Regions from separate parts of the Homo sapiens genome. Here region 2 is linked to region 1. The links come from fine-mapping of genetic effects on plasma protein levels. A gene starts in region 1. The other region holds a variant in brackets. All regions are shown on one strand. Distances are from middle to middle.

Region 1 (16,532 bases):
AAATACAACCAGCAAAAAGATCTTTAAACAGCCAGTATGTGAATATTTAAGTATTTAATGAAGAGAGAAATTAGTCAAAAACAATGAAACTTCTTGACATATGCAAAATGAAAACTTAACTGTTGGAGACTAAATGCAGATTAAATCATAAGAAAAAATTGTGAATCTAATGACATAATAGACTTTTTCAAAACATAAATACAGAAAGGAAAAGATTGAAAAGATTATTGAATAGCATCTCAGTGACATATGAAACATTCAGTGACATACGATAAATGAATAAGCAGTATAATAGCCATGTATCTTAATATTTTATATACCATATAAACATTAATTAAATATTAAAGAAGTAATGGATAGAAATTTTTGAAGTTTACTGAAAATTACAAATGCAAAGAATCAAGATCATAAACCCCAAAGGAGGATAAATATCACAGAACACACAAACACATAAACTGCATACTAAGAAATATCATAATTAAATAACTGATAAAGAAAAATTATAAAAGCAGCCATTAAAAAAATTACACATTGCATTGAGGAAACAATAGTGACTGCAGTCTTCTCATCAGAAAATATGTAGGCCTGAAGACAATGGAAATATATCATTAAAGTGCTGAAAGAAAAAGGAAACTGTCATCTTAAAAGTTATTACCAATGAAATTGTAATTTAAAATAAAAGGCAAAGTAAAAATGTAGACAATAAATTTCTGAGAAAATTTGTTACCTGTAGACCTGAAATACAAGAATATTGGATTAGGTAACTACGTAGGTAAATATAAAGGACAGTACAAATGTATTTTTTTGTCTGTAACTCTTTGCTCTCCTTTCTAATTTGAAAAGAACTTCAAAAGCAGTAATTATAAATCATGTTGATGGGAATACAATCTATAAAGATGTAATCTGAACAGCACTAATAGAACAAACGAGGGAGTACAAAATGGTATTATACGGAAACAAAATTTTACTATACTGTTGAACTTAAAGTGGTATTAATATGAGCTATACTTCTATAAACTCAGATGTTGATTATAATACTATTGTACTGGCACCCAGTAAAAATTAAGGGACAAATATACTAAAAGAAATGACTATAAAAAATGTCACACAGGCCAAGGACAGTGGCACATGCCTGTAATCTCAACACTTTGGAAGGCTGAAGTGGAAGGAACACTTGAACCCAGGAGTTGAAGACCAGCCTGGACAACATAGAGAGACCCTCATTTCTAAAAAAAATAATAATAAATAACCAGGCATGGTGGTGGGCACCTGTAGTCCCAGCTGCTTGGGAGGCTAAGGAAGGATGATAACTTGAGCCCAGTGTTTGAGGATGCAGTGAGCCATGATTGCACCAACACACTCCAGCCTGGGCGACAGAGCAAGATTCTGTCTGAAAACAAACAAACTAAAAAGAAATAGTAAACTATAAAATATCTACTTAACAAAAAAGAAGTCAGTAACAGAACAATAGAGTAACAAAAAAACGTGATATATAGAAAAAAATAGCACCATGTAGATATAGACCCTACCTTACCAGTAATTATAATACATGTAAATGGATTAAACACTTCAAACAAAAGGCAGATATTGGCAAAATTGATGATAAAAATTGTTTGATAACGATGTACTGTGTACTAGAAAATTGCTACAACAGTACATATAGCTGTTTTCAATACCAAAAAATAGTAAGTATGTGAGATAGTGCATATATTAATCAGCTTGATTTAGCCATTCTACAATGTATATGTATATCAGAATATTATGTTATACACCAAAAATATATACATTTTACTTATCAATTTAAAATTTAAAAATTTTTAAATTTTCCAAGAGAGAAACTTTGTATTTCAAAATTAATAAAACTAGAAATATAAATATAAAATTAAAATCCTCAACAAACAATCCAAATCCAATAACAGATAACTAAGTTTTATTAATCATCAGGAATGCAAAGTTGGTTCAATATGAGGATCAATCAATTATAATAAACTAATTTAATAAAATAAGGACAGAAGCCATATAATCATCTCAATTGATGCAGAAAAGGCATTTTCTGCATCAAAATTCAACACCCTTTTATGATAAAAATGCTTAACAAACCAGGATAGAAGGAAGCTTCCTCAACTGATAAGGAATATTCTTGAAAAACCCACAGCTAACATCATTCTTACTGATGAATAACTGAAGTATTTACTTTTAAGATCAGGAACAAGAAAAGTATGTACGCTCTCACTGCTTCTATTCAACATTGTACTGAAAATTTGTAGTCAGGGCAATTAGGCAAGAAATAAAATAATAAAGACTTCCATATTAAATAGGAAGAAGTAAACTTATATCCAGTTGCTGACATGATTTTGAATGTAGAAAATACTAAGTATTTTTAAAAACCTATCGAAGCTTATAAATGAGTTCAGCCAGTTTGCAGAATACAAGATCAATCAAGTTGATAATTTCTATAAATTATCAAAAAACAATCCAGAAATAAAATTAAGAAAACTGATCCTTTTACTATAGCATCAAAAAGAATAAAATACTTAGGAATAAATTTAACAAAAGAAGCATAAAGAAGTATAAGATTTGTATACTGAAAACATGGAAAAAATTAATAAAAACCTAAATAAATGGAAAGACACCATGTGTTTATGGATTAGAAGATTTAATTGTTAAAATAGCAATGCCCCCAAACCGATCTATAGATTCAATGCAATCTTTATCAAAGTTGCAACTTCCTTTTTGTGTTATTGTCACAGAAATTGACTAGCTGATCCTAGAATTCATATGGAAATGCAAGGAACTTAAAGTGGCCAGAATAGCCTAGAAAAAGAACAAAGTTGGAGGACTCACACTTCCTAATTCTAAAAGTTGCTCCAAAATTACAGTAATTAAAACAGTGTGCTGCTCCTATAAAAATAGACACATAGCTCAATGGAATAGAAATGAGAGTCCAGAAATAAACCCTCACAGTTTTGGTCAACTGATTTTAAAGAGTATGCCATGACAAATCAATAGGGGAAAGAGTCGTCTTCAACAAATGTTGGTGGGACAACTGGTTATCCACATGCAAAAGATGAAGTTGGACTCGTATCTCATATCTTATAAAAAGTAACTCAAAACGGACCAAGCACCTAAATGTACAAACTATAAAACTCCTAGAAGAAAAAAGGTATACATCTTCATGACCTTAAATTAAGCAATATTATTTTAGAAATAACATCAAAAGTACAAGCAATCAAAGAAAAAAATGAATTAATTGGACTTTATAAAAATTGAAAACTTTTGTTATAACGGAGAGAATCAAGAAAGTGAAAAAGGGAATTCATAGAATCAGAGAAAATATTTGCAAATCATATGTCTGATAAAGGATTAGTATCCAAAATGTGTAAAGAACACTAACGATAAAACTATAGATAATCTAATTTTTTAAATAGGCAAAGGATAGACAATTTTTCACATAAAATATATAAGTGGCCAATAAGCACATGAAGACATGCTCAACATTATTAGTCATTATTAGTCATTAGGAATATACAAACCCAAATCACAATAATATACCACTTCCCACTTACTAGAATAGCTATGATCAAACAAGACAATAACAAGTGTTGATGAGAATGTGGAGAAATTGACACCTTCATGCATTGCTTATGGAAATGTAAAATGGTGTATCTGTTTTGGGAAAAGTTTTAGCAATTACTCAAATTGTTAAAAATATAATTAAAATATAACCCAGCAATATCATGCCTAGGTATACACACAAAAGAATTGAGAATGTCCATAAAACTACTTGTATAGTACTGTGCTTAGCAGCACAATTCACAATAGCCCAAAAGTGGAAACCACCCAAATGTGCATCAACTCTTTATCAACAGATAAACAGAAGTGTTATGGCCATGCAAAAGAACACGACTGAGTCATAAAAAAGGAATGAAGTACTTATGCTTGCTACAACATGAATGCGCCTTGAAAATATTATGCCAAGTAAAAGAAGTCAGTCATAAAGCGCTGCATGGTGTATGCTTCCATTGATATGACATGTCCAAAATAAGCCAATCCATAGAGACTGAGGAGAAGGAAGAATGGAAAGTGGACTGCTAATGGTTGTAGAGTTTCATTTTGTGGTGATAAAAATGTGGAAATTCGTGGCAATGGTTGTACCACTGTAAATATGCTAAACCTCACTGGATTGTACTCTTTATAAGAGTGAATTTTGTGATATCTGAATTATAACAAAATTTAAAAAGTAAAACATGAAAAAGATAAGCTATGTCAATCTTAACCAAAAGAAATCTGAAATTATTTTATTAATATTACACAAAGTAAACTTCAGAAAAGCAATATTACCTGGAAAGGAGGGATAGTAACCATTTTACAGGGAACAATTCAGCAAGAAGACAGAAAATCCTACTTGCATATATATATTATTTTGGAGGTTCAAAATGCATGATGGAAAATCTAATAGAATGGAAAAGAAAAATGACAAATCTACAATTTTGGTCGGATATTTCAACACTCTTGCCTCCACTTATAAATGGAATAAAGCACAGGGGTTGGGCTGGAATAAAAAGAAAATATGTAAGAATATTGATACAAACAATATTAAGCAAATTTATACAACTGGCAGTTTTAAACACTCAACAGCAGTAGGTACATATTGTTTCTTTACAGATTTATTGGGATATAATTTACACACCATAAAATTCACCTATTGTTAGTGTATAGTTTGACGCATTTTACTAGGTTTAGGTGATTGTGCCCCCATAACAATAATATGGTCTTAGAACACTAGGATGACCACAATAAGTTCTCTTATGAGGCTTATAGTGAATTGTTGCTCACACTCTTAGGCCTCAGGCAACCAGTGATATCCATTTTGTTTCAACAGTTTAGCCTCTTTAAATTTCATACGAATGAATTCATGTAGTAAGTAGTCTTTTGCATCTGATTTCTCTAACTTAGTAAAATCTCTTGGAATTTTATCCCACTTGTTGCATGTATCAGTATTCTGTCCCTTAAATTGTGTGCATTATTCTAGTGTAGAAATATATCACAAATTATTTATTCATTCACTACTTCATGGGCATTTTGATAAATTCCTATTTTCAGCTATTACGAATTGTGCTGCTATGAACATTGAGATGAACAACTTGATGTAGACATATGTTTTCATTTATTTTGGGTAGATGGCTGGGAGTAGAATACTTAGGTCATATGGCAAGTGCATGTTTAAATTTTTAAGAAGCTTACTAACTGCTTCCTAGAGTAGATCGCTATGTCTTGAGTATGGCCCCTTAAGTTCATGTGTTGGGAACTTAATCTCCAATGCAACAGTGCAGAGAGGTCGGACCTTTAAGAGGTCATTAGCTCATGAAGGTTTTGCCCTCATGAATGAATTAATGCTGTTATTGCAGGAGTGGGTTAATTATCAAGAGGGTGGGTTCCTGATGAAAAAAGAGTTCAGCACCTCACCCTCCACCCCAACCCCTATGTGTGATATTGCCCTTCTGCTTTCTGGTAGAGAATGATGTGTCAGGAAGGCCCTCACCAGATGCAAGCCTCTCCACTTGGGACTTCTCAGACTCCGGAACTGTAAGCAATAAATCTTTCTTCTTTATAAATTACCCAGTCTCAGAAATTCTGTTACAGTAGCACAAAACAGACTAAGATGTGGGTGTACAATCTTACACTCTTACCAGTGATGTATGAGAATTCCAGTTTTCTTCCCACCCATATCAGTACTTGATATTGTCTCTCTCTCTCTCTCTTTTTTTTTTTTTTTGTAGCCTTTCTATTGTGTATGTTGTGGTATGTCATTGTGGTTTGAATTTGCATTTTCCTAATGGTTACTGATATTAACACCTTTTTTGTTCTTAACAGCCTTTACTATATCTTCTGTGGTAAAGTGTCTATTCAAATATTTTGCCTTTTGCAAGGGTAGGATGTGATGTTTATCTCTTTATTATTAAGTTTGAGAGTTCTTTATAATTTCTGGATACAAGTCTTTTATAGGACATAATGATTTGGAAGTATTTACTCCCAGTTTTTGGCTTGCCAATTTTTTTCTGAACGGAATCTTTTCGAGAGCAAAAGCTTTTAATATTAAAGATATCTATTTTTTTCCATTTTTGATAATCCTTTAGGTGACATACCAAAGAAGTTTTTGCCTAATTTGAATCACAAATATTTTCTTCTATGTTTTTTCCTAGTTTTAAAACTTTATCTCTTATATTTGGGTATCTCACCCATTTTAAGTCAACTTTTGATATACATTTTTAGGATCACATAGAATATTAGTCAAGATAGACCCTATGGCCATAAAACAAGCCTCAATACATATAAGAGAATAAAAATCATATGAAATATGCTTTCTGCTACAATTGAATTAAATTTATAATTTAAATTTTAATTTAATTTAATAAATATATTTATAATTTATATTTAATTTATAATATAAATATATAATTATAATATAAATTTATAATTTAATTTAATTTATAATTTAAATTTAAATTATAGAATATATATTCTAAACCAATATATAATCTAAACAAATATATAAAATTTTATTTATTTATTATGGGAATTGGCTCATATGATCACAGAGGCCAAAAAATCCCATGGTCTGTCATCTGCAAGCTGGAGAACAAGGAAAGCAAGTGTTGTAATTTAGTCCCAGTCTGAAGGTCTGAAAACCAGGAAAGCTGATGGTGTAATTTCCAGTTGAGCACAAAGGCTTAAGAACCACAAAAGGGGGCACTGATTTAAGTCCCAGAACATGTATCTTTGAAGGCAGAACAAGGTGAATGTCCCTGCTGAAGAAGAGAAAGTGAATTTGTGCTTTCTCTACCTTTTTGTGTATTCGGGTCCTTAATGTATTAGATAATGACCATCCACCTTGGTGAAGGTGATCTTCTTTACTCAATTCATCAATTCAAATGGTAGTCTCTTTTGGAAATATTCTTACAGACATTTAAAACATCAAAAACATTAGAAATGTTTTTTCTAGCATTCTGGGCATCCCTTACCCCAGTCAGGTTGACACATAAATTAACCATCACAGTTAGCGTATTTCAAATGTACATGTATATTCAAATTAAATAATCACAAAGGAATAATAATAAATTTTGAAGTAAATTATAATGAAAACACAGCATATCAAAATTTGGGAAATGTAGATAATGCAGTGCCTACAGAAAAATGTATCATTTTAATGCTTATATTATGAGGAGAAAACCTAACTCAATGATTTATCCTAATATATAAGCCAAAGTAGAAGTATGAGAAGAAATTAAGTAATATTTTGAACTAAATAAAATGAAAATATAACCTATCAAACTTGTGGAATGCAGCAAAAGCAGGGTCTAGAGGTCAAAAAGTTAAAATCATATGATCACATCAATAAGTGTAGAAAAATATTTGAGAAAATCAAGCCTCCATTCATTTTTATCATTAGAAAACTAGGAATAAAAAGACATTTTCACTACCTGATAAAGAACAACTACAAGTAACCTACATCTAGCATTATATTTAACAGAGAGAAACTAGATACTTCCCCCTAAGACTGGAAACAAGGTAGGGATATCCTTCTCATCTCTCCTATTAACATCTTAATAAAAGTCCTAGCTAATGCAATAAGACAAGAAAAGTAAATTAAAACTCACAGATTAGAAAGGTAGAAAAAAATTATCCTTATTTGCAGGTAACATGTTCGTCTATGTAGAAAATTCCAAAGAATGAACAAACAACAATAAAACTTCTGGAACTATTAAGAGATAATAGCAAGATTGCAGGTAACAAGGTGAATATACAAAAATCAATCGCATTATTATACACCAGCAATGGGCAATTGAAATTAAAAATTAAAAACATAATACCATTTACATTAACACCAAAAAGCTGAAATATTTAGGTTTAAATTAACAAATTATGTACAAGATATATATGAGAATAACTATAAAACCCTGATGAAAGAAATCAAAGATCTAAATAAATGAATGTGGGAAGGCTCAATATTGTCAATATCTCAGTTCTTCTCAACTTGATATGTAAATTAAATGCAATCTCAATCAAAATCTCAGCAAGTTACTTTGTGGATATCTACAAACTTATCCTACAGTGATATGGAAAAGAGAACCAGAATGTCCAACACAATGTGTAAGTAGAAGAACAAGTTAGAGGACTGACACTATCCAATATTAATATTTACTATAAAACTATAGTAATGAAGACAGTGCAGTACTGGCAAAAACAAACAAACCAAAACAGACAAATAGACCAATAGAACAGAATAGAAAATGCAGAAATAGACCTGCACAAATATAGTAAATTGATCTTTGACAAAGAAAGAAAGGCAATACAATGGAGAGAAGATAATTTTTTCAACAAATGATGCTTAAACAATTGGACATGTGAAAGCAAAAAAATGAATCTAGATGCTAATCTTACCTCTTCCACAAAAATTAACTCAAAATTAATTATAGGCCTAAATGTAAAACACAAAGCAATTAAACTTTAATAGATAACATAAGAGAAAATCCTTGTGACCTTGTACTTGGTAATGAGTTTTTAGATACAAAACTAAAAGACAATCTATGAAAAACAAATTAATAAATTGGACTTCATTAAGATTAAAAAGCTCTTCTCTGTGAATATCACTATTAAGAAGATGAAAAGGTAAGCCACAGATTTGGAGAAAACATTTGTGAAACACATATTCGATAAAGGACTTGAATACAAAATATAAAGAAACTCTTGAAACTCAACAATAAGAAAATATGTAATTTAAAAAATGGGTAAAATATTTGAATAACTACTATACCAAGGAACATATACAGGCAGCAAATAAGCATATAAGGTGATGCTCAAAATTATATGTTACTAGGAAACTGCAAATTCAAACAACGAGATACCACTAATGCCTACTAGAACAGGTAAAATTCAAACACTGACAACAGCAAATGCTCTTGAGGACATGAAACAAAAGGAATTTTAATTCATCACCAGAGGAAAGGTGCAGCCACTTTGGAAGACAGTTTGGCAGTTTCTTACAAAGCTAAACATAATCTACCCTACAATCCAGAAATTGTGCTTCAGGTATTTACCCAAATGGGTTGAAAACTTATGTCAGCACAAAAACCTGAACATGAATGTTTACAGCAACTTTGTGCTTGCCAAAATTAGAAGCAAATAAAATGTACTTCAATAGCTGAATGGATAAACAAACTATGGGACATTTATACAATGGAATAACATTTAGTGATAAAATGAGCTATCAAGCCATGAAAGGGTATGAGGAATCTTAAATATTTACTGTTAAATGAAAGAAGAAAAGCTATATACCACATAATTTCAACTATATAACATTTGTGGGGTATTGAAAGACTGTAGGGAGGAATAAATGGAGTACAGTGTATTTTTTAAGGCAGTGAAAATATCTTGTATAATACCACAATGATGGGCACATGACACTATATATCTGGCAATACCCACAAAACTGTACAATACCAAGAGTGAACCATAATATAAATTGTGAGCTTTAATTAATAATAATGCCTCAATATTGGTTCCTCAATTTTAACAAAGGTACGTCACCCATGCAAGATGCAAATAGTAGGAGAAACCATGGGCAGGGGAAAGGAAATGCATGGAAACTCTCTGTACTTTCTGTTCTGTTTTTCTTTAAATGTAAAACTGCTTTAAGAAATAAAGCTTATTAATAATGTATATATTTTTCAAAAACTTCAAAAAATCTAATTAAATAGAGATCTATACCATGTTCATTGATTGGAAGACTCAATATTTTTAAGACAGCAATTCTGCCAAAATTGATCTACAGACCTGAGAAAATTCCAAAGAAAACATAATTTTTACTTAAATTGACAAGTTGACATCAATATTTGTATGGAAATGCAAAAGACTACAAGAGCCAAAAGAAATTTGTAAAAGAAGAATAAGATTGTATTACTTGCCATGTCTGATTATAAGATTTACCATAAAGCTAGAGTAATCAAAATAATGTGAAATTGTCATAAGAATCAATGACATGGCAGAGTTCAGGAACAGACCTATATATATATGACCAATTGATTTCTGACAAAGATGTTATGGTCATTCAATGAAGAAAGGATGGTCTTTTCACAAAATAATTCTGGAACAACTGATATCTATACGGAAAAAAATAATCAGTAATACCTTATATCATATCTACTAATTTGAAATAGATCATAGAAATTAAAACTATCAAATTTCTAGAAGAGAACAGAAAAAAAGTAGCTCTGGAGTAAATGAAAGATTTCTTAGATATGACCAAAAAAAACACAAAGCATAAAAAGAAAATTTGATTGAGGAAATAGGGCTTTATCAAAATTAAAGGAGTTCGCACTTCCAAAAGATGACATTTAGAAAATGAAATGCAAACAAAAAATTGGAGGAAAATATTATCAAAATATATTCCTTATATATTCCTTGTATATTGGAAGATACACAACCCAATTAAAAATTAGCAAAATATTAGAACAGACACTTCACAACACAAAATCTGATGCAAGAATAACCAACAAGAACACAGAGACATATTGGCATCATTGGTCATCAAGGAAATTTGGTTCTTCTCAATAATTTTAGTTTTTCTACTGAAATTCTCTATTTTTTTCACTTATATTTCCTTTACTTAATTGAGTATATTTATAGTAGCTGATTTTAACACTTTTCTATTAATTCCAACATCTGGGTCATCTAAAAATTAATTTCTGTTGATTGTCTTTTTTTCTTGAAACTGGGCCACATTTTCCTGGTTCTTTGAATGTTGAATAGCTTTCGGTGGTATCCTGGATGTTAAGTTGTGAAGACTCTGGATTTCATTATATCACTCCAGTGTTGAAGTTTTTGTTTTACTACTCATTTAATTTGGTTAGATTCACATTGCAACATTTGTCACTCGGGTAGCAACTCAAACCTCAGCTCAGTATTTGGTTATTGTTTTTGTTTGTTTTAATCTTTAACTGGGAAGCATTGAATCTGTTCCATATACACATGATTCAGGGATAAAGTGGAGATTTGTGCGTAGATTATACCTAGAAATTTGGACTATTCCAGTGTCTCTTCTTTTCAGTCTTCTATTTTCACTTTCCATCTCAGGACATTGTCCCAAACTCTATACTCTATTTCAGGAAAACTGTAATTTTTCTATGACTGTTTGCCCCTGGCAATACTGTGTGCAATCTTCTCTCAAGTTAAAAGGCATTGAATGTGCCATTCCTTCTTCCAAGCGTTGATTCCCCTTTAAAATATGCCTGTTTTGTTTACATTCCAGTGCTTTCTGGTTTTGGTTGTTTCACCCCTACAGGAGATGTTATCTGGGGGATGGTAAGGTCTAGTAAAAGTCTACTCAGCAGTACTGAAAACTTATACTTCAATAGTTTCTTAAAATGTTAAGCATTGTAATCCCAGCACTTTGGGAGGCCGAGGCGGGTGGATCATGAGGTCAGGAGATAGAGACCATCCTGGCTAACAAGGTGAAACCCCGTCTCTACTAAAAATACAAAAAATTAGCCGGGCGCGGTGGCGGGCGCCTGTAGTCCCAGCTACTCGGGAGGCTGAGGCAGGAGAATGGCGTGAACCCGGGAAGCGGAGCTTGCAGTGAGCCGAGATTGAGCCACTGCAGTCCGCAGTCCGGCCTGGGCGACAGAGCGAGACTCCGTCTCAAAAAAAAAAAAAAAAAAAATGTCAAGCATATATCTACCATTCGACCCAGAAATTTCGCTCTTGGGTATATGACTAAAAGAAACAACAACATATCCACAAAAAATCTTATATAAAAGTTCATAACAACCTTATTACTAACAAGCAGAAACTGAAAATAACCCCAAATGTCCACTAATTAGAAAATGGATATACAAAATATGGTATATCCATACAATAAAATACTACTGAACAATAAAAAGGAATAAACTGCAGATAACTTACAAAATAAAGAATACATCTCAAAAGTAATATGTGTGCAAAAGAAGCCAGATGTAGAATAATATATATTGTCTGAATCCTTTTATAGGAATTCCAAGAATATGCAAAGTGAAGCCACAGAGAAACATAATCAAAAGTGTAGTTACCTCTATGGGTTGGGGCTGAAGGTGTAGATTGAACATTTCTGATCTGTGCTTTTAACTGAATGTAAATTATACCTCAACAAAATTTTTGAACAGAATGATACATTTATGGTCCAGAAGAAGTCAATGGTAATTTCACCACCTGTTCAATGAACTAGGCATAGAATTGGAAATGGGAGACCATACTACAAAGCTCATTTTTAAATTTTAAAGCCATTGCAATGGTCAAAACTTGTGAAACATGATAGAAATTTTGATAGATGTGCCTCTAGTCATCCATAGAGAAAAGGTCAAGAAATTAAAAACAAAACACAAAAAGCCCATTTCACACATAGAAGGTAAAAGACTTATGTGTGTCTGCTCTTCAGTGTCATACCTGCATCTTGCATCCACATCTTTTCTATGATGGGCTGCACATTGTATCAGCATTGTTTGTGTATGTATGAACCTTGCTCATTGTTTCTCTAGGGGCCACTTAATTAATGTTCATCAACTTAATAAGCAAATCCTCAGCTGAGCTATAATTTCTCATAGCTTTATAAAACTAAAGTGACCTTAGGTGGCATGTGGTTGAGTCTCCTCATTTGCTAATAAAAATATTGAGGTTCAAAATGGTAGAGAGATGTACCCAAGGTCACACAAGCAGGGAACAGCAAATATGGGCCCTCAGATCTGACTTGAAGTCTGGTGCTCTTAACACTATGCAGTACAACCTCCTCAAAGGCTCACCTACTCCTTGACTCTCTGGGGAGAAGGTTTCATTACTTCCTATATACCAGTAGACCTTTCTCTAATCAGTAGAAATACATTTATTCTGATGGTTTTCTGACTGAGAAACTATCAGAAGTCCTGTCCCTGAGAAAAGGGTATGGTTGTTTATGTACGTAATCCTCCGGGCCAAATAAATACAAATCAAGAATTTAGCCTGAAGACAAGACAAGTAATTGTGGAAATCAATATTGGCAGGCTCTTTCTATCTGTGGTTTACTTTTTGGAGTCCAGCACTGTATTAGTCAAGGCTTCTTCAGTTGAAAATGACAGGAATCCAACTACAGCAAGCTTAGAAAAGAAACAAAAATCTATTGGCTTGAAAAATGGCATTTCTACCTTGAGACGTAGCAGGATCCATGGAGTCTTTCAAGTGTTCTTTCTCCATCTCTCAGCATTGCTTTTCTGCATGGAAGGAAATACAGTCACTGACAACTCTATACCTATACCATCCGATTCACTATTGTTCATATGACACATCTCATGGAAAAAAGCCTGATTGGAAATATTTGGGACATATGACCACCCTGTATCAATCACTATACATTAGGAGAACAGGTTCTACTATAGAGTTAGCCAGGGTCACATGTCCACCTCTGAGAAAGAGAAGAGAGGCACACATTTTACTAGCATATGGGGAATCATATGAAAAGGATCATTACTCTAAGGAAGGGATGCTTTGCTGAGGGAAAAAAAAAAGTTCACTTCAACACAAAGATCCCTCCTTAAACCAGAAGCCTAAACATATGGAGTCCCCTCCTAAAGTTGTTTGACATCCCAGGGCACTGACTCCTGCAAACTGTATTTCTTAGGCTGCTTTGTCAACTGACTTTCTTCTAGGTTCACCCAATGACAGGGTTTTGAAATACAGGTTAAAGGAGGGCCACAATATTTCTTTTCACTCTCAGCTTTTGGAGGACCCTCCAGCATTATCTGTCTCCCAGTAAGCATCTCCACTGTGGTCTCAGTTCCTTTAATGTAGCTTGTGCTCCTCATTCCTGGTAAAGCCTCCTCTCTAGCACTCCCCAGCCTGAGAGTGGTAGTACTTTCCTGCTAGTAACTATCATCGTGTTGCCTCATCATCCCCTAGTTGGCTTTTTAGTCATTTGAATCCTTTGTAATTTGTTCCCCATATTAAATTCTCTCTATTGAATTACAACATATAGATGCTATTTTTCTGAAAGAACTCTAAGATGTGTGTCGAGAGGAGGCAATCTCCCATATAAGGACCAGGTTCCCCAAAGAGAAAAGCCATTAGAGTTTGGCTGCCTCAGCTAATCTTAAAGTGGAGGAAAAAACAAACAAACAAACAAACAAACAAAAACAAAAAGTGCTGAGGAACACTGTACTTTAAACTATCAGAGAAATAATGTCTTTTTTATTGCTGTTTTTTAGAGACAGGGTCTCACTCTGTCACCCAGGCTGGAGTGCAGTGGTGTAATCATAACTCACTGCACCCTCAAACTTCTGGCTTCAAGCGATACTCCCTCCTGAGCTGCTGGGATTACAGGTGTGAGCCACCGCTCCTGGCCCTGGAAAATTACTCTCATTGAGCACCTGCGCCTGCATGCCTGGTCATGAATGTCAGCTGCTAACACTCTGGTAGCATGCCTACTCCTTCCTCCCATCCACATACTGTCTATGATTTCCTAGTCTCCTAAGACCTCCTTCTCAGTAAGGCCATCTTCCGAGGAGGAGCATCAACTCCTCCAACCTCCCAGCTCCTGGGTGTGCCTTGATACTTCCAAACTCACTGCAAGCGTCACTGGCACATGGTATGAAGCAGAGCGGGGGAGGCAGGACACAGAGCACTGGGTGTGACTGGGGAGGGCAGGCTTTCACAGCTTCCTCTGTGATGGTTTCTAATCCTTGCAGGCTCCCACCATTGGGTCTCTTTCCATCTGAAAATGGAGGAAATTAGACCAGCTGCCTAAAACATCAACTCTAATGTTCTAGGTTCTAAGATTCTGTGGTTAATTTAAGTGACAGAACCACATTATGGCTGCTGTTTCATCAGCACTGTGAAGACTGTACAAGCCACACCTCAGTATGTTGGCTGACCTTAAAAACACCTTGTCAGTACTTGATATAGACACTCGAAGTAATTCTAAGTTGCATCTTACTTTTCTTACTTACAATAAAATGCTGCTCTCTGATTATGAAGATTCATACTCCTTAGTACGAATGGTAAAGAATCATTTGTTTTCTCAGGTGGTCATTTCACTTTCAAAAGCATTTAAGAGGCAATTTTTTTAAGGGTGATATTTCAAGGTCAACACTTTCCGTGCTTTCTAATTCATTGTATTTGTATCATTCTTCAAAGATCCTTCATATTCATTATCTTTTTAAGCATAAGAGAATTGGGCTGTCATTTTTAGTTCTCATATGACACATGAATACACTGAGAGTTAGATTAAGTGAACTGTCTCTAGAGCATACGTCTGGCTATCTAGAATGTAATAACTATAAAGGGAGGGGATCTTTCTTATTAGGGTTGTGGGAAAGGTCTGTCACTGATGTTTCTAATGCTTAGAAGAGTGCCTGACACATAGTAGGTGTCAATAAACATTCGTTGACTCAATAAATGAATGAATCTAATTCGTGACAGAGCTGGGTCTAGAATTCTCTACTCCCTCAGCCATTGCTCCTTTAGTGCTGACAAGAGTTGTTCTATGTTCTCAAGCGCCCCACATTCCTTTGTCTTTTCTGGATGCACCTGTGGTTGGGTTTGTGAGGCGAGGCCAGTGAGCTTTCCTGGTGAGGTGCCACTGGCAACCCCGCCTCATAGCGACACAGGGGAGGGAAGCAGGGGGTCTGCGGAGGTTGCTCCCGAGAGACTAAAGCTGTTGCCCCCGATTTTCCAAGGACGCCAGTGAGGAAGGCCCGCCTGTCCCGCCGCCCGGGCACTGGCCTCACTTTGTCGCGGGAGGGGACCAGGGCTCTGGAGAAGGCCCGGGCCAGCGGCTGGGCGGGGCTCTCCGAGGCTCCCACCTCGCGGTCCCCGCCTGGCGGCCGGCGGCTGCGGCAGAAGGCGAAGCGGTCGTGCTCCCCCTCCCGGACACTGCGGCGGTGGCAGCGCCAGCCCCGCCGCGGCCGCCCACGGGCTCGCGGAGTCTGGCGGGACCTGCGCGGGGCGGGACCTGCGCGGGGCGGGGAGGAGGGGCCGAGGCGGAGCTGCTGCGCTGGGAGCCGGCTGGGGGCGCCGCTCTCAGTCTGGGGCGGGCGCTCGGGCTGCGCGGGCTCTGGGCAGCAGCAGCAGCAGCAGCAGCATCCTCTCTTCCTTTACTTCCCTTCCGCTTCTTTCTCTTCCTTCTCCTTCTTTTTCCCCCCCCTCCCCTTCTTCCCCTAACCCTTCTACCCCTCTCCTTTTTCTCCGGAGGGCGCTAAGTCCGTGAGCGGTGGCAGTCGCGACCGCGGGTGCATCCAGTTTCTGCGCCCAGGTAAGAGACCGTCCCCACCTCTGGCTCTATGTAGGGCGCCTCTCCTTTTGCCTCGGTCTCTGAGTAGAAAGAGATAGGAATGGGGAGGGGTTGTGTCTCGTCCTCTGGGACTCGCAGCAGGCAGTCTGGTAGTTGGTCGAGTGGCCAGCCGTGCACCTGGCGGAAGATTCGGGCCTGTCCTCTCCAGGTGTCACTGCGGAGCAGGGGGCCGGACGCTACTGGT
Region 2 (16,559 bases), 110 kb before region 1:
CAGAAAACCAGAACTATCATTCTACCCAGCAATCCCACTAGTGGGTATATACCCAGTGGAAAATAAATCATTCCACCAAAAAGACACACACAAATGTATGTTAATCGCAGTGCTATTCACAATAGCAAAGACCTGGAATCAACCAAGATGCCCATCAATGGTGAATTGAATAAAGAAAATGTGGCACATATGCACAATAGAATATTACACAGCCATAGAAAGAATGAAATAATGTTCTTTGCAGCAACATGAACGCAGCTGGAGGCCATTATCCTAAGCGAACTAATGCAGGAACAGAAAACCAAATACCACATGTTCTCATTTATAAGTGAGAACTAAACGCTGAATACACATGGACACAAAGATGGGAACAATAGACACTGCGGACTGCTTGAGTGGGGAGGGGAGAGAATGCATGGCTTGGAAGGCCTCTTACTGGGTACTATGTTCCCTACTTTGGTGACAGGATTATTTGTACACCAAGCCTCAGCAGCATGCAATTTACCCGTGTAATAAAACTGTACAGGTACCTAAACCTAAAATAAAAGTAGGAAAAAATATCTATCATCAAATTGCTCTTTAAACTTAATTATCATACTTAAATCAATATTTCCTTTACAATTGTATCAACTCAGAGACATTGAGTGGTGATTTATGAAAGACTATGTGTTTGTGCATTTATAGAATTCACAGATATGAATATAAATCAAGATAACTTGGATGGACACAAAACCAAGCTGAAAAAAAATCCTGTTATTTTGTTTCACTTCCTAAACATAAACTACAGCTAAAACTATTCAAGTTTGTGTCATTACAAGAGAAATAACTTCCATTGATAAGAAGCTGCTTCCATTGATTTGAAAATGCTTCTCATAAGCTACATTAGGTTAGCTTTGAGCTTCAGAGATTTTTAAAAAACAAATAGCCCCTAAAATCAGTTAAGATCCATAAGCTCAGTTATATTTATATATATTTTTTATCATCTGAAATGTTAATTGAAGCATATGGACTTGGTTTTTAATTTCTAGCTTTAGGAAACTATTTACACTACTTAGTGAACAGAAAATCAAAAAGGAGTATGGCTGTATCTATCCAACTTCATTATCAGTAGTGGAAAAACTGTAACCACATTTCCTATGCAGAAAGCCAAGAATGGTGTAGTTCTGGTTAAAAACATATGATCCATTGCACTGAATATGAACTCACAATAATTCAAGTTCATTATCTTTATCTCCTGAATTCCATGAAACATAATCACAGTCCCCAGCAATACTACTTGTCTTAGTCTGTTTTCTGTTGCTTATAACAGAATACCTGAAACTGGATAATTTATATAGAAAAGGAATTTATGGAGGCTGAGAAGTCCAAGATCTAGTGACCACATTTGGTGAGAGTCTTTTTGCTGGTAGGGACTCTCTGCAGACTCCTGAGGCAGCACAGGGCATCACATGACAAGGGGGCTGAGCATGTTAGCATGCTAGCTCAGGTCTCTCTTCCTCTTCCTAGAAAGCAACAAATTCCCTTGTTGTAATAATCCATTGATCCATTAATACATTGGTCTATGAGTGGATTAATCCACTCTTAAGGACAGAGACCTCATGTTGTAAATACCTCTTAAAGCCCCCACCTCTCAATATGGCCACATTTAAGATAAAATTTCAACATGAGTTTTGGAGGGGACGGTCAAACCACAGCACTGTTTAAAGTTGTTTCTTTCTGGACTAATACCCAGAATCTACAAGAAACTCAAACAAATGAGCAAGAAAAATACAATCCCATCAAATAGTGGGCTAAGGGCATTAATAGAAAATTCTCAAAAGAAGATATACAAACAGCCAACAAACATATGAAAAAATCCTCAACGTCACTAATGATCAGGGAAATGCAAATCAAAACCACAATGAGATACCAACTTACCCCTCTAAGAATGGCCATAATCAAAAAAATAATAGACGTTGGTGTGGATGTGGTGAAAAGGGAACACTTCTACACTGCTGGTGGGAATGTAAACCAGTACAACCATCACGGAAAAATTATGGAGATTACTTAAAGAACTAAAAGTAGATCTACTATTTGATCCAGCAATCCCACTACCGGGTATCTATCCAGAGGAAAAGAGGTCATTATACGAAAAAGATACTTGCACATGCATGTTTACAGGAGCACAATTCGCAATTGCAAAAATGTGGAACCAGCCCAAATGTCCATCAATCAACAAGTGGATAAAGAAACTGTGATATATGTATACCCCATATATATACCACGGAATACTACTCAGTCATAAACATGAATGAATTAATGGCATTTGCAGAAACCTGGATGGGTTTGGAGACTATTATGCTGAGTGAAATAACTCAGGAATGGAAAACCAAACATCATAGGTTCTCACTCATAAGTGGGAGCTAAGCTATGAGGATTCAAAGGCATAAGAATGATACAATGGACTGGGGACTCAGGGGGAAAAGGTGGGATGGGGTTGAGGGATAAAAGACTATAAATTAGGTTCAGTGTATACTGCTCAGGTGCTGGGTGAACCAAAGCCTCAAAATCACCACTAAAGAACTTCCATAACAAAATACCACCTGTTCCCCAAAAACTTATGAAAATAAAAAATAAAATAAAGTTGTTCCTTTCTTTCCCTTTTGTATCCACTAAGCTTCTTGAGCTTTTCTCCTCAAACCCTACCCACATCCCTGGAAACATCTTCACTATATATGTTTTATGTGTTACTGAAAGAAGTCAGGAAGGTAAAATCAGATTCATTTTAATGAATGAATAAAATAAAAATACATTAACATGGCTATAATGAAGTGACAGGGTTCAGGACTCACTACCTCAAAGTATGGCACCTTGGCATTTGAGGAAGCAGCAGAAGCAGAAACGTCACTCTCACCTTACCCTGCCCTTCTCTCCTGAAGCAAGCCATAAAAGAATTCTCTGAACTTCCTCTAAAGCAGGCCGTAAAGCCTTTACTTCAGAGTTCTTCTTCCTTTCCCCAAAGGAAATAAAATATCCTTATCATCAAAGACACAGAGAAGCTGAGAAGAACCTGAGCAAACATGCCTTGCTAAGTTCCCCCTCTGCCTAGTTTATTACCATTAGATCACACCCTTTGTCCTCTAATCATTTTTCTCCACAACTATCCATTCATCAAATTCAGCATAATATACACAGGTTTCCCTATTTTGGAGGGTCTCCTTTTCTGAAAGCTGCAGTATCATGTAAAATTTACATTAAATACATTTGTAGGTTTTTCTCTTGTTCATCTATTTTCATTATAGCTGCTTCTGCCATGAACCTTGTGATGAGTAAAGAAAAGGTATTAGTTTTTTTTTTCTTTTTTGGTTCTACAGAAGGCAGAAAGAAAAGAACAAATGAATCTTTCAAGGACTTGTTATGACTATAAGATAAACATTTATATTAACATTTTAGTTTCTTTTTATTCACTTCAGCCAAAAATATGAGTTTAAAACCATCAATAGATATAGATCCTTTTCAAAATCTCTCCATATGGTTGAACATGTAAAAAAATTGTTTTCCCTTTTAGGGGGCAATCAGATGAAAGAATTGATTAACATAATCTGTAAGTGGAAAAAAAAAGTAGATGTGGGTTATTGGAACAAGTCTATTTAAATATGAATGACCTAATGGGTTCTTAATTAAATCTGTATGCTAAAACTAAAGATTTTCTACTAATTAGAAAATGAACAGTTAACCCAGTAAAATATATAGAATTTTGAAATATCTTTCAATGTCTTTCAAAATTTTTATGAAAGTATCAAATTACTAGAGAGAAAAACATACATACATACACACACACACACACACACATATATTCGTGTGGGAGGCATGTCAAAGGCTTGACTTCTTCAATGGTCTCATTAAAAAGGAAAAACCTCTTGATTCTTTTGAGATAGTCTAGATAATTGAGTAAAGATAAGAGTTCTTATTTGGACAGAAGTCATATCATCTAGGACAAGAATACAATGAATATAAATTCTACAAAACTAAAGTTGAGGTTCTTAATAACAGGATAGCACATGCTGATGAAGGAATGGCAGAGGAATCCCCATCAAACTAATATGACTTTGAAAAATACTTTTTATCTGATGTCAACTTTCAATGTGTCTTTATTGCAAAACAAGCAAACAAGCAAAACAACAACAACAACAAAAACCCTGTAGTGGTCAGGGACAATGGCTCACACCTGTAATCCCAGCACTTTGGGAGGCTGAAGCAGGTGGATCACCCGAGGTCAGGAGTTCGAGATCAGCCTGGCCCACATGGTGAAACTCCGTCTCTACTAGAAAAATACAAAAAAAAAAAAAAAAAAAAAGAAAGAAAGAAAAAAATTCCAGGTGTGGTGGCACATGCCTGTAGTCTCAGCTATTTGGGAGACTGAGGCAGGAGAATCACTTGAACCTGGGAGGTGGAGGTTGCAGTGAGCCAAGATGGTGCCACTGCACCCCAGCCTGGGCAACAGAGTGAGACTCTGTCTCAAAAACAAACAAACAAACAAAAACCTGTAGTGCTTGTGCACTATGGGCAGAATTTCACTTGGTTTAATATCTTGTAATACTCTGTTCAAACAATCCAGTAACCACATCTTTGACAAAAATGAAAAAAAAAAAATACTCCTGGCTTTCATGTAATCTTTCTTTTGTAATTAAGAGAGACTTCAGTGAGTTTGAAATTTAGTTCTTTTACTTTTCTTTCCTTCTCATCTAGAATGGAAGGATAATGAATGGATCTCAGTAAAAACACTTCATGTATGTCAAATTATTACATTAAGCTTGTAAAAGGTAACACAATGACAACTCTAGAACGATACGTTTCCTGCTCAATAAATAAATATGGGCTTTGGTGTTTTCACTGCTTTGTATCTTATGTTTCTATTTTTCTTATTTAGTATGTTCTTTGGAACTATGATCTCACTGGAAGCTCAGGGGTTCTAGAAAATATTCCTGACAAAAGATAAGAATTTATTTTCTGAACTCCAAGCTTTGACCATGACTCAGAATTCCTGGTTCAGATCTATTGACTATGCTGAACAAAACATTATATAGAGTAGTCTCTAGACTACCTCATTCAAGTAATTCCTACCCTCAGCTTGGTTTAAAAAACACCTAGCAGTTTTTTAAAGAGAAAGGAAAACAGGAGGACGAAATGCCTGGCGTTCTGTGGACAAGGAACTTATAGATGTGGCACCAATGATCTTTTCCCCTATTTTCACCCCCCAGAAAAGGGCATTATATAGCTTTGGGCAGGTTAATTAACATCAAATTTTGGGCAGGTTAATTAACATCAAATCCTGTGTACTGCTTTAGCTGTAAGAATGAACATGGCTGCAGATATTTGTGATTTTTCTGATACTTCTTGGATTCTGACAGGCTGTTTTAGGGGACCACATATGGGCCTTACTTAGCCTTACTATACTGTGCATAAGAAGGTTTTACACCACAGTAGCTCCTACTCCTGGAGAGTGTTCGGTCCTCACTCCATTACTTGACATGGCTCCCACTGCAGTCATGCCTACCAGAAGCAGGCTTTCTGAATGCTCCTACGCCCTGAGGTTGCTACAGCAAAAGTAGGTGCTTGCCTTTTAAACCTCCTTTATTCTTAACAACCAGGCAGAGAAGAACTAATGACTCAACCACTTTCTGTAACATGGGAAATCATATTATCCTTCTAGTGTGGCCTCCCTATTTAAAAAATTCCACACTCAATGCCTAACCTTGGATATATTCAATACTGGGTTTTAACTTCTTTTCCAAGGGCATGTGATCATAGAAATATTCTGCTAAGAATTCTCCACAACTTTAGGGTGCCACTGTTTCCCTTTTCTTCATACTACTAAGAGGAGATAAGCACAGGAAGAATTTTATGATATGTTCTGTAAAGTACATCTTCAGAACTAAAGCGTTTAGAAGTATACCGAACTCAGGGCTAACTAGATTTCCTACATTATGCAAAATATTCTCTGAAAATGTTTGCTAGTTTCTTTTTTAAGGGAGGAGGATATTGTCAGTCCTCTGAGCCCAAGCCAAGCCATCGCATCCCCTGTGACCTGCACATATACGCCCAGATGGCCTGAAGTAACTAAAGAATCACAAAAGAAGTGAATATGCCCTGCCCCACCTTAACTGATGACATTCCACCACAAAAGAAGTGTAAATGGCCAGTCCTTGCCTTAACTGATGACATTACCTTGTGAAAGTCCTTTTCCTGGCTCATCCTGGCTCAAAAAGCTCCCCCACTGAGCACCTTGCGACCCCCACTCCTGCCCACTGAGCAACTTGCAACCCCCACTCCTACCCGCCAGAGAACAAACCCCCTTTGACTGTAATTTTCCTTTACCTACCCAAATCCTATAAAACAGCCCCACCCTTATCTCCCTTCACTGACTCTTTTCGGACTCAGCCCACCTGCACGCAGGTGATTAAAAGCTTTATTGCTCACACAAAGCCTGTTTGGTGGTCTCTTCACACGGACGCGCATAAAATTTGGTGCCGTGACTCGGATCGGGGGACCTCCCTTGGGAGATCAATCCCCTGTCCTCCTGCTCTTTGCTCCGTGAGAAAGATCCACCTACGACCTCAGGTCCTCGGACCGATCAGCTCAAGAAACATCTCACCAATTTCAAATCCGGTAAGTGGCCTCTTTTTACTCTCTTCTCCAACCTCCCTCACTATCCCTCAACCTCTTTCTCCTTTCAGTCTTGGTGCCACACTTCAGTCTCTCCCTTCTCTTAATTTCAATTCCTTTCATTTTCTGGTAGAGACAAAAGGGACATGTTTTATCCATGAACCCAAAACTCCGGCACCGGTCACGGACTGGGAAGGCAGCCTTCCCTTGGTGTTTAATCATTGCAGGGACGCCTCTCTGATTATACACTCACGTTTCAAGGGTGTCAGACCATGCAGGGATGCCTGCCTTGGTCCTTCACCCTTAGCGGCAAGTCCCGCTTTCCTGGGACAGGGGCAAGTACCCCTCAACCCCTTCTCCTTCACCCTTAGTGGCAAGTCCCGCTTTCCTAGGGGGCAAGAACCCCCCAATCGCTTATTTCCGCACCCCAACCTCTTATCTCTGTGCCACAATCCCTTATTTCCATGTCCCAACCCTTTCTCTGCTTTTCTGGAGGGGAAGAAACCCCCACCCCTTCTCCGTGTCTCTACTCTTTTCTCTGGGCTTGCCTCCTTCACTATGGGCAGGCTTCCACCTTCCATTCCTCTTTCTTCTCCCTTAGCCTGTATTCTTAAGAACTTAAAACCTCTTCAATTCTCACCTGACCTAAAATCTAAGCATCTTATTTTCTTCTGCAATGCCACTTGACCCCAATACAAACTCAACAGTAGTTCCAAATAGCCAGAAAACGGCACTTTCAATTTTTCCATCCTACAAGATCTAAATAATTCTTGTCGTAAAATGGGCAAATGGTCTGAGGTGCCTGACGTCCAGGCATTCTTTTACACATCAGTCCCTTCCTAGTCTCTGTGCCCAGTGCAACTCGTCCCAAATCTTCCTTCTTTCCCTCCCGCCTGTCCCTTCAGTACCAACCCCAAGTGTCATTGAGTCTTTCTAATCTTCCTTTTCTACAGACCCATCTGACCTCTCCCCTCCTCAACAGGCCGAGCTAGGTCCCAATTCTTCCTCAGCCTCCGCTCCTCCACCCTATAATCTTTTAATCGCCTCCCCTCCTCACACCTGCTCCGGCTTACAGTTTCGTTCCGTGACTAGGCCTCCCCCTCCTGACCAGCAATTTACTCTTAAAAAGGTGGCTGGAGCTAAAGGCATAGTCAAGGTTAATGCTCCTTTTTCTTTATCCCAAATCAGATGGCGTTTAGGGTCTTTTTCATCAAATATAAAAATCCAGCCCAGTTCATGACTTGTTTGGCAGCAACCCTGAGACACTTTACAGCCCTAGACCCTAAAAGGTCAAAAGGCCGTCTTATTCTCAATATACATTTTATTACCCAATCTGCTCCCGACATTAAATAAAACTCCAAAAACTGAAATCTGGCCCTCAAACCCCACAACAGGACTTAATTAACCTCACCTTCAAGGTGTGCAATAACAGAAAAAAGTTGCAATTCCTTGCCTCCACTGTGAGACAAACCCCAGCTACATCTCCAGCACACAAGACTTCCAAATGCCTGAACCGCAGCAGCCAAGTGTTCCTCCAGAACCTCCTCCCCCAGGAACTTGCTACACATGCCGGAAATCTGGCCACTGGGCCAAGGAATGCCCGCAGCCCGGGATTCCTCCTAAGCCGCGTCCCATCTGTGTGGGACCCCACTGAAAATCGGACTATTCAACTCACCTGGCAGCCACTCCCAGAGCTGCTGGAACTCTGGCCCAAGGCTCTCTGACTGACTCCTTCTTGGCTTACCGGCTGAAGACTGACACTGCCCGATCACCTCGGAAGCGCCCTAGACCATCATGGACGGCAAGCTTTGGGTAACTCTCACAGTGGAAGGTAAGCCTGTCCCCTTCTTAATCAATACGGAGGCTACTCATTTCACATTACCTTCTTTTCAAGGGCCTGTTTCCCTTGCCTCCATAACTGTTGTGGGTATTGACGGCCAGGCTTCTAAACCTCTTAAAACTCCCCAACTCTGGTGCCAACTTAGACAATACTCTTTAAAGCGCTCCTTTTTAGTTATCCCCACCTGCCCAGTTCCCTTATTAGGCTGAGACACTTTAACTAAATTATCTGCTTCCCTGACTATTCCTGGATTATAGCTACATCTCATTGCTGCCTTCCTTCCCAATCCAAAGCCTCCTTTG[T/C]GTCCTCCTCTTGTATCCCCCCAACCTTAACCCACAAGTATAAGATACCTCTACTCCCTCCTTGGCGACCAATCATGCACCCCTTCCCATCTCATTAAAACCTAATCACCCTTACCCCACTCAACAATATCCCATCCCACAGCACACTTTAAAAAGATTAAAGCCTGTTATCACTCGCCTGCTACAGCATGGCCTTTTAAAGCCTATAAACTCTCCTTACAATTCCCCCGTTTTACCTGTCCTAAAACCAGACAAGCCTTACAAGTTAGTTCAGGATCTGCGCCTTAGCAACCAAATTGTTTTGCTATGGTGCCAAACCCATATACTCTCCTATCCTCAATACCTCCCTCCACAATCCATTATTCTGTTCTGGATCTCAAACATGCTTTCTTTACTATTCCTTTGCACCCTTAATCCCAGCCTCTCTTTGCTTTCTCTTGGACTGACCCTGACACCCATCAAGCTCAGCAAATTACCTAGGCTGTACTGCCACAAAGCTCACAGACAGCCCCCGTTACTTCAATCAAGCCCAAATTTCTTCCTCAATTGTTACCTATCTCGGCATAATTCTCAAAACACACGTGCTTTCCCTGCTGATCGTGTCCGATTAATCTCCCAAACCTCAATCCCTTACAAAACAACAACTCCTTTCCTTCCTAGGCATGGTTAGTGTGGTCAGAATTCTTACACAAGAGCCAGGACCGCACCCTGTAGCCTTTCTGTCCAAACAACTTGACCTTACTGTTTTAGCCTAGCCCTCATGTCTGCAAGCAGCGGCTGCCGCTGCTTTAATACTTTTAGAGGCCCTCAAAATTGCAAACTATGCTCAACTCACTCTCTACATTTCTCATAACTTCCAAAATCTATTTTCTTCCTCATACCTGACGCATATACTTTCTGCTCCTGGCTCCTTCAGCTGTACTCACTCTTTGTTAAGTCCCACAATTACCATCGTTCCTGGCCCGGACTTCAAGCTGGCCTCCCACATTATTCCTGATACCACACCTGACCCCCACGACTGTATCTCTCTGATCCACCTGACATTCACCCCATTTCCCCATATTTCCTTCTTTCCTGTTCCTCACCCTGATCACGCTTGATTTATTGATGGCAGTTCCACCAGGCCTAATCGCCACATACCAGCAAAGGCAGGCTATGCTATAGTACAAGCCACTAGCCCGCCTCCCAGAACCTCTCATTTCCTTTCCATCGTGGAAATCTATCCTCAAGGAAATAACTTCTCAGTGTTCCATCTGCTATTCTACTACTCCTCAAGGATTATTCAGGCCCCCTCCCTTCCCTACACATCAAGCTCGAAGATTTGCCCCTACCCAGGACTGGCAAATTAGCTTTACTCAACATGCCCGGGTCAGGAAACTAAAATACCTCTTAGGCTAAATAGACACTTTCACTGAATAAGTAAAGGCCTTTCCTACAGGGTCTGAGAAGGCCTCCGCAGTCATTTCTTCCATTCTGTCAGACATAATTCCTCAGTTTAGCCTTCCCACCTCAATACAGTCTGATAACAGATAAGCCTTTATTAGTCAAATCAGCCAAGCAGTTTTTCAGGCTCTTAGTATTCAGTGAAACCTTTATATCCCTTACGGTCCTCCATCTTCAAGAAAGGTAGAATGGACTGAAGGTCTTTTAAAAACTCACCTCACCAAGCTCAGCCACCAAAAAGGACTGGACAATACTTTTATCACTTTCCCTTCTCAGAATTCAGGCCTGTCCTTGGAATGCTACAAGGTACAGCCCATTTAAGCTCCTGTATAGATGCTCCTTTTTATTAGGCCCCAGTCTCATTCCAGACACCAGACCAACTTAGACTGTGCCCCCAAAAAAAACTTGTCATCCCTACTATTTTCTGTCTAGTCATACTCCTATTCTCTGTTCTCAACTACTCATACATGCCCTGCTCTTGTTTACACTGCCAGTTTACACTGTTTATCCAAGCCATCACAGCTGATATCTCCTCGTGCTATCCCCAAACTGCCACTCTTAACTCTTGAAGTAACTAAATAATCTTTGGTGGCAGGACTATGCTGAATCTCCTTAGGCACTCTCTAATCAGATGTCCTAGGTCCTCCCAATTCTTAGACTTTTTATACCTGTTTTTCTCCTTATTCCATTTAGTTTTTCAGTTCATACAAAACCGTATCCAGGCCATCACCAATCATTCTATACAACAAATGTTTCTTCTAACAACCCCACAATATCACCCCTTACCACAAGATCTGCCTTCAGCTTAATCTGTCCCACTCTAGGTTCCCACACCACCCCTAATCCCGCTTGAAGCAGCCCTGAGAAACATCGTCCACTCTCTCTCCATACCACCCCCCAAAAATTTTCGCCGCCCCAACACTTCAACACTATTTTGTTTTATTTTTCTTAATAAGAAGGCAGGAATGTCAGGCCTCTGAGTCCAAGCCAAGCCGTCGCATCCCCTGTGACCTGCACGTATACGCCCAGATGGCCTGAAGTAACTAAAGAATCACAAAAGAAGTGAATATGCCCTGCCCCACCTTAACTGATGACATTCCACCACAAAAGAAGTGTAAATGGCCGGTCCTTGCCTTAACTGATGACATTACCTTGTGAAAGTCCTTTTCCTGGCTCATCCTGGCTCAAAAAGCTCCCCCACTGAGCACCTTGCGACCCCCACTCCTGCCCACCAGAGAACAAACCCCCTTTGACTGTAATTTTCCTTTACCTACCCAAATCCTATAAAACGGCCCCACCCTTATCTCCCTTTGCTGACTCTTTTCGGACTCAGCCCGCCTGCACCAGGTGATTAAAAGCTTTATTGCTCACACAAAGCCTGTTTGGTGGTCTCTTCACACGGACGCGCATGAAAGATATGTCAATCATGTGTTTTTAAAAAATGACTATTTCATAAAATGATGAATAGCTAATATGTACCATGAAGTATATATAATTCTTGGGTAATTTTCAAGAACTGGTTCTCATCTTCAGAGCCAATACTTTCCTTTTAATTATTCATCTGAATTAAATATATTTAAATTTAAATCTTTAGCTTGAAGGGGAAAAAGAATCCTGTGTACTGCTCTAGCTGTGACCAAGCCAATTATGCTAACATCAGCATCCAACGATCACAGCAGGAAACATACTGTCTTCTTTACATGCATGGGCTGACTGAATTCTTACAAAATCTCCATGAGGTAGGCATCACTATACATTCACATTCCATAGGTGAGAACAATTTGATGTTAATTAACCTCCTCAAAGCTATATAATTCTCTAAGAACTGAATCAGAATTCAAATAAAATCTTTCTGACTCCAAAATGAATGTAAAACATACGTAATGTAGCCCCTTCTAAAGGATATTTCTCAGAGCTTCAAGGCTGTTCTTACAGATCAGACACCTTTGTAGAATATTCTAAGACCCACATCTAAACATATTTCTGTGAAGTATCTAAGGAAATACCTAAAATTCATCTTTCAAATGGTAGTATCTGGTTTAAGGATTGCTCCTTATTTCACATAACCCTTAGTGGGTGTAATAGTTCATTCTTATGCTGCTGTAAAGAACCACCTGAGACTGTGAAATTTATGAAGAAAAGAGGTTTAGTTGACTCACAGTTCTGCAGGCTTAACAGGAAGCACGACGGGAAGCCTTCAGGAAACTTAAATCATGGTGTCAAGGAATCTTTGGGGTGTTGCTTTTCCAGCTGGAAATTCTGTGGCCAGTGGCACCTTTGCCTAAGTATTGCTCAGGCCTGCTGGGCTCATTCCACCCACTCGGCCTGGCAGGCTGTGCTCAGCTGTGCCACTGGCCTGGATCCCACACCTGCCAAGGGAGAGTCAGGCATAGAGCAGTGAGGAGTGTGTGAGCAAGCGTGGGATCTGGCCACTGCCCACAGCCAGGCATGCCAGCTGCGGAGAGGTGGGGAGCTCCAGGCACCAGCACGGGTGCCGGCTCTTTGTGAGGCTGTGGCTGGACCAGGCATACCACAAGTAGATTTCACTGTGAGCACCATGGAACTCGGGGCACCTGGACCCTTGGAGACACCAGGAACCGCAGACCCCCAAAGAGGGTGTCACTGCCCTGGCTCAGAGGGCCCCTAGGTCTGGGCTCCTGAAAGAACTGCAGCTCTTCTCTCTTTCCCATTGAGAGACAGGACTAGCTGGATTTCCTAGGCCGACTAAGAATCCCTAAGCCTAGCTGGGAAGGTGACGGCATCCACCTTTAAACACAGGGCTTGCAACTTAGCTCACACCCAACCAATCGGAGAGCTCACTAAAATGCTAATTAGGCAAAAACAGGAGGTAAAGAAATAGCCAATCATCTATTGCCTGAGAGCACAGCGGGAAGGACAAGGATCGGGATATAAACCCAGGCATTCAAGCCAGCAACGGCAACCCCCTTTGGGTCCCCTCCCCTTGTATGGGAGCTCTGTTTTCACTCTATTTCACTCTATTAAATCTTGCAACTGCACTCTTCTGGTCCGTGTTTGTTACGGCTCAAACTGAGCTTTCTCTTGCCATCCACCACTGCTGGTTTGTTGCGGTCGGAGACCGGCCGCTGACTTCCATCCCTCCGGATCCAGCAGGGTGTCCGCTGTGCTCCTGATCCAGCGAGGCGCCCATTGCCGCTCCTGATCGGGCTAAAGGCTTGCCATTGTTCCTGCATGGCTAAGTGCCTGGGTTCGTTCTAATCGAGCTGAACACTAGTCACTGGGTTCCACGGTTGTCTTCCATGACCCACGACTTCTAATAGAGCTATAACACTCACCGCATGGCCTAAGATTCCATTCCTTGGAATCCGTGAGGCCAATGAACCCCAGGTCAGAAAACACGAGGCTTGCCACCATCTTGGAAGTGGCCTACCACCATCTTGGGAGCTCTGGGAGCAAGGACCCCCGGTAACATCATTACCTGCAACATGGCAAGTAGGGCGGCATGTTTTAGTACTGTTTGTGTTACAGCTCTTTTAGTCCCACCATTCAGTGGGTCCTGAGTTCTTGTCCCGCATCCAGAAAAAAAATTAGGTATGTGGACAACTGGAGGGTGAGCAAGGTGAAGTGGAGCTTCACTGAGCTGCAGAACAGTTCTCAGGAAACCTACAGTTCCACATGCAGGTCATCCTGACAAGTGTCCAGTTTCTCTGCATAGAGGAGACTGCAGTGGGTAGCTCCTTCCCACAGCTGGTAGTCCCAAGTCTGTCCAAGTCTGGCTGAGTCTGGGGTTTTCATGGGTTCCAAAGGGAGGAAGTGCATGCTGATTGGTCCATAGATAGCCTTGGGAGGGCCTGGAGAAAGCACCATAAGTTCTCACTCCAGGCCAGGGACTCCACCCAGAACTGGAGGCTGGCCCCCAGGCTTGGAAGTGGGGTTTCATCAGGGACTCACCCCTTCCCACCCAGAAGCCTGCCTGCCACCATCAACACGCCATCCACGGCACCCAGGCTGCTCGTGCTAAAGGGTGCCTGTAAGGCTACGCCAAGCCACCCTCAACCCCCTTAGGCCTCCCTCCCATGCTCGTTGGTGCCCAAAGTCCAGAGGGGACCAAGGTGACAGGGGACTGCTGTGTTGGCATTGCCCCGAGCATGCACACACCTGGCCGGGTTGCAACAGTGCCTGGGCTCAGCTTCAACTTTGCTCCCAAATCAGAGTGGGCACCAGGAATGGGGAGAGGCCAGGCAGCAGGAGCAGGCATTTCTGAGCCTGCAGAGGAAGGAGGACTTCCCAGGCCCCTGAGAGCACAGGGCTGCCCTGGTTCTGCAGCCCCAGCTGCACAGCTGCAGCTGCACCCTGGGAGTGCAGAAGGGGGCAGGGCTCCCGCCAGTTCCCAGCTCCTGCTGGCTCTGCAGAGTGTGCAGTCCCGGCCTTGCCTCGCCCACTGCAGCTGATGTCCCTCACCCACTGCTGTCAATGGCAGAAGGTGAAGAGGAAACAAGGGTGGAGCAAGAGGGTGGGGGATGTGCCACACACTTTCAAATTATCAGATCACATGAGAACTCACTATCATAAGAACAGCAAGGGGGAAATCCACCCCCATGATCCAGTCACGTCCCACCAGGCCCCTCCCCTGACATGTGGGGATTACCATTAGAGATGATATTTGGGTGGGGACACAGAGCCAAATTGTATCAGCGGGAATATATTGAACCTTACCTGTTAATTTGCTCTGTCTTCTCACACACCTCTTTTTCTTTCATCTTGTCTCAGGAAAATAAATATTCTTTCTTCTTGCTTAGGAGTATTGCCATCCCTTTCTATTCCCTCCAAGGGCTCCAATAGTGCTCCTGAATACTCATGACTGGGCCCTTGCTTCTAAGTCTCTCTTTACCCGGAGCTACTTGGTCTTCCCCTGCTTCTTACATTCTATCTATTTGAGCAACAGGTCTCAAAGCTAAATAATTATATAAAACACTGCTCTAGCATTTTGCTCTCTCAAATAACCACCATCTCTCTTGCATCTTGAGTGTCTCCCTTGCTCCCTACTACAAACATAGTGAGCTACCTTGCTTTAAACTATTAGATAAGGCTATTAGATAAGATGACTGGGCATTTTTGCCTTTAACCTGAAACCATGAGACTTCCCCTTATCAAGCCTCAGTCCTTCAACCAGTCAGGATGTAGGTTGCTGTAGTGTTTCTAGAAGCTGTGAAGAACTGTTTTTTACACTACAAACCATTTGGTGATGAACAAGTTTTGGTTAGCCCCCTTATTTGATAATATGCTTCTCACAGTTATGTGACAATGTCTAAGATTTCACTAACAATATAGTGCAAATGAACTACCTTGCTCTAAGTGTGTGCTGGTGAATAAAATCATTGGTGAATAAGATCACATATGAGTTATATGATAATGCCTAAGATTTCACTAACATAGATTCCTTACTATGTATGGCTTTTCTCAAGCTCACTAATCCAAGGGCTAATAATTCTTCCTTGTAATTCATCCTTAAAGAGCTAAAGTTACGATTTTCTAGCATGTCTTTCATGTAAATACCCAGGGAATCATGTGAAATACATTTTATAATTCCCATTATTCCCATTTTTCAAGTGAGAAATCTAAAAGCCAGTAGGTTCTAGCAATTTTCTTAAGGCCACATATTTTGTACAAGCATTCAACATTACAGAAGTATCTGTGTCCATAATCTTTCTGGAACACCATGCTTAAATGTTTTTTGCAAATAAGAAAATTAAAATGGTTTCTGCAAAAGGTTAGTTGTTTGCTCCTATTAGCTGTTTGTTATTTAAACAGGTATATCACTCAGGACTCTTTCGGTTACAAGTAACAGTAAATACAAATTAGCTTAAGCAAGAGCATTGACTAATCTGGCTGAAAGTTCTAGTGTCAGTTTCTAGAGAAATTTGATATCATTGTTAAGTATCTCACTGCCAGATAGGATCCATTGTGTCCATGATTTTGCCACTGAAGATCATTGATCTTATTTTGCATAATTCCAGGAATGAAAGAAAGAATCCTTTCCATAAAGCTCAAAAATTCCCATAATGCAGTTTTGGGAGCTCTTTCTAGACCTGAAGGATGAGAAACTGGTCATGTTACCTCCTAGGAGAAAGTTCCAGGAAAAGGAAATAGTATGTGGGAAAACCCTAAGGTCAAAAAGAGCTCGGGTTCTTCACAGAACTGAGAGAAGCCCATCACAAGAGGAAGATAACTAGGAGAGTAGTGGCTAAAGATGAAGGTGGATTAGTTAAAAAAAAAATACATATGGCATATATATATATATATATATATGAGCCCACATACATATATATGGGCCGTTTGAACCACATAAG

Which allele goes with the higher level. Positions count from the first base shown, and alleles are read on the strand shown. Strength reflects both the effect of a copy and how common the allele is.
With allele T in place of C in region 2, the plasma level of the protein whose gene starts at base 16,080 in region 1 is lower (weak association).

The links. A credible set is the group of variants that fine-mapping cannot tell apart. PIP is the chance, under the fine-mapping model, that this variant and not a neighbour inherited with it causes the effect. The UK Biobank Pharma Proteomics Project read protein levels with antibody pairs (Olink). The fine-mapping took linkage between variants from a reference panel, not from the people measured, so its PIPs are less certain.
Region 2: its variant is the best candidate, but not a certain one, in a credible set for the plasma level of the MAP2 protein (UK Biobank, PIP 0.79).

Annotation. Positions count from the first base shown.
Region 1 is chr2:209,407,968-209,424,499 of GRCh38, forward strand. MAP2 (microtubule associated protein 2) reads left to right here and starts at 16,080. Exons shown (of 16, transcript NM_001375505.1): 1 at 16,080-16,309. RefSeq lists a silencer at 15,761-16,150.
Region 2 is chr2:209,293,291-209,309,849 of GRCh38, forward strand. No RefSeq gene overlaps it. Among named protein-coding and RNA genes, the nearest start is that of MAP2, 120 kb to the right of the region's middle. RefSeq lists enhancers at 5,619-6,278, 6,279-6,938, 10,940-11,939, 11,940-12,938. The variant T/C (reference allele first, on the strand shown) is at 8,788.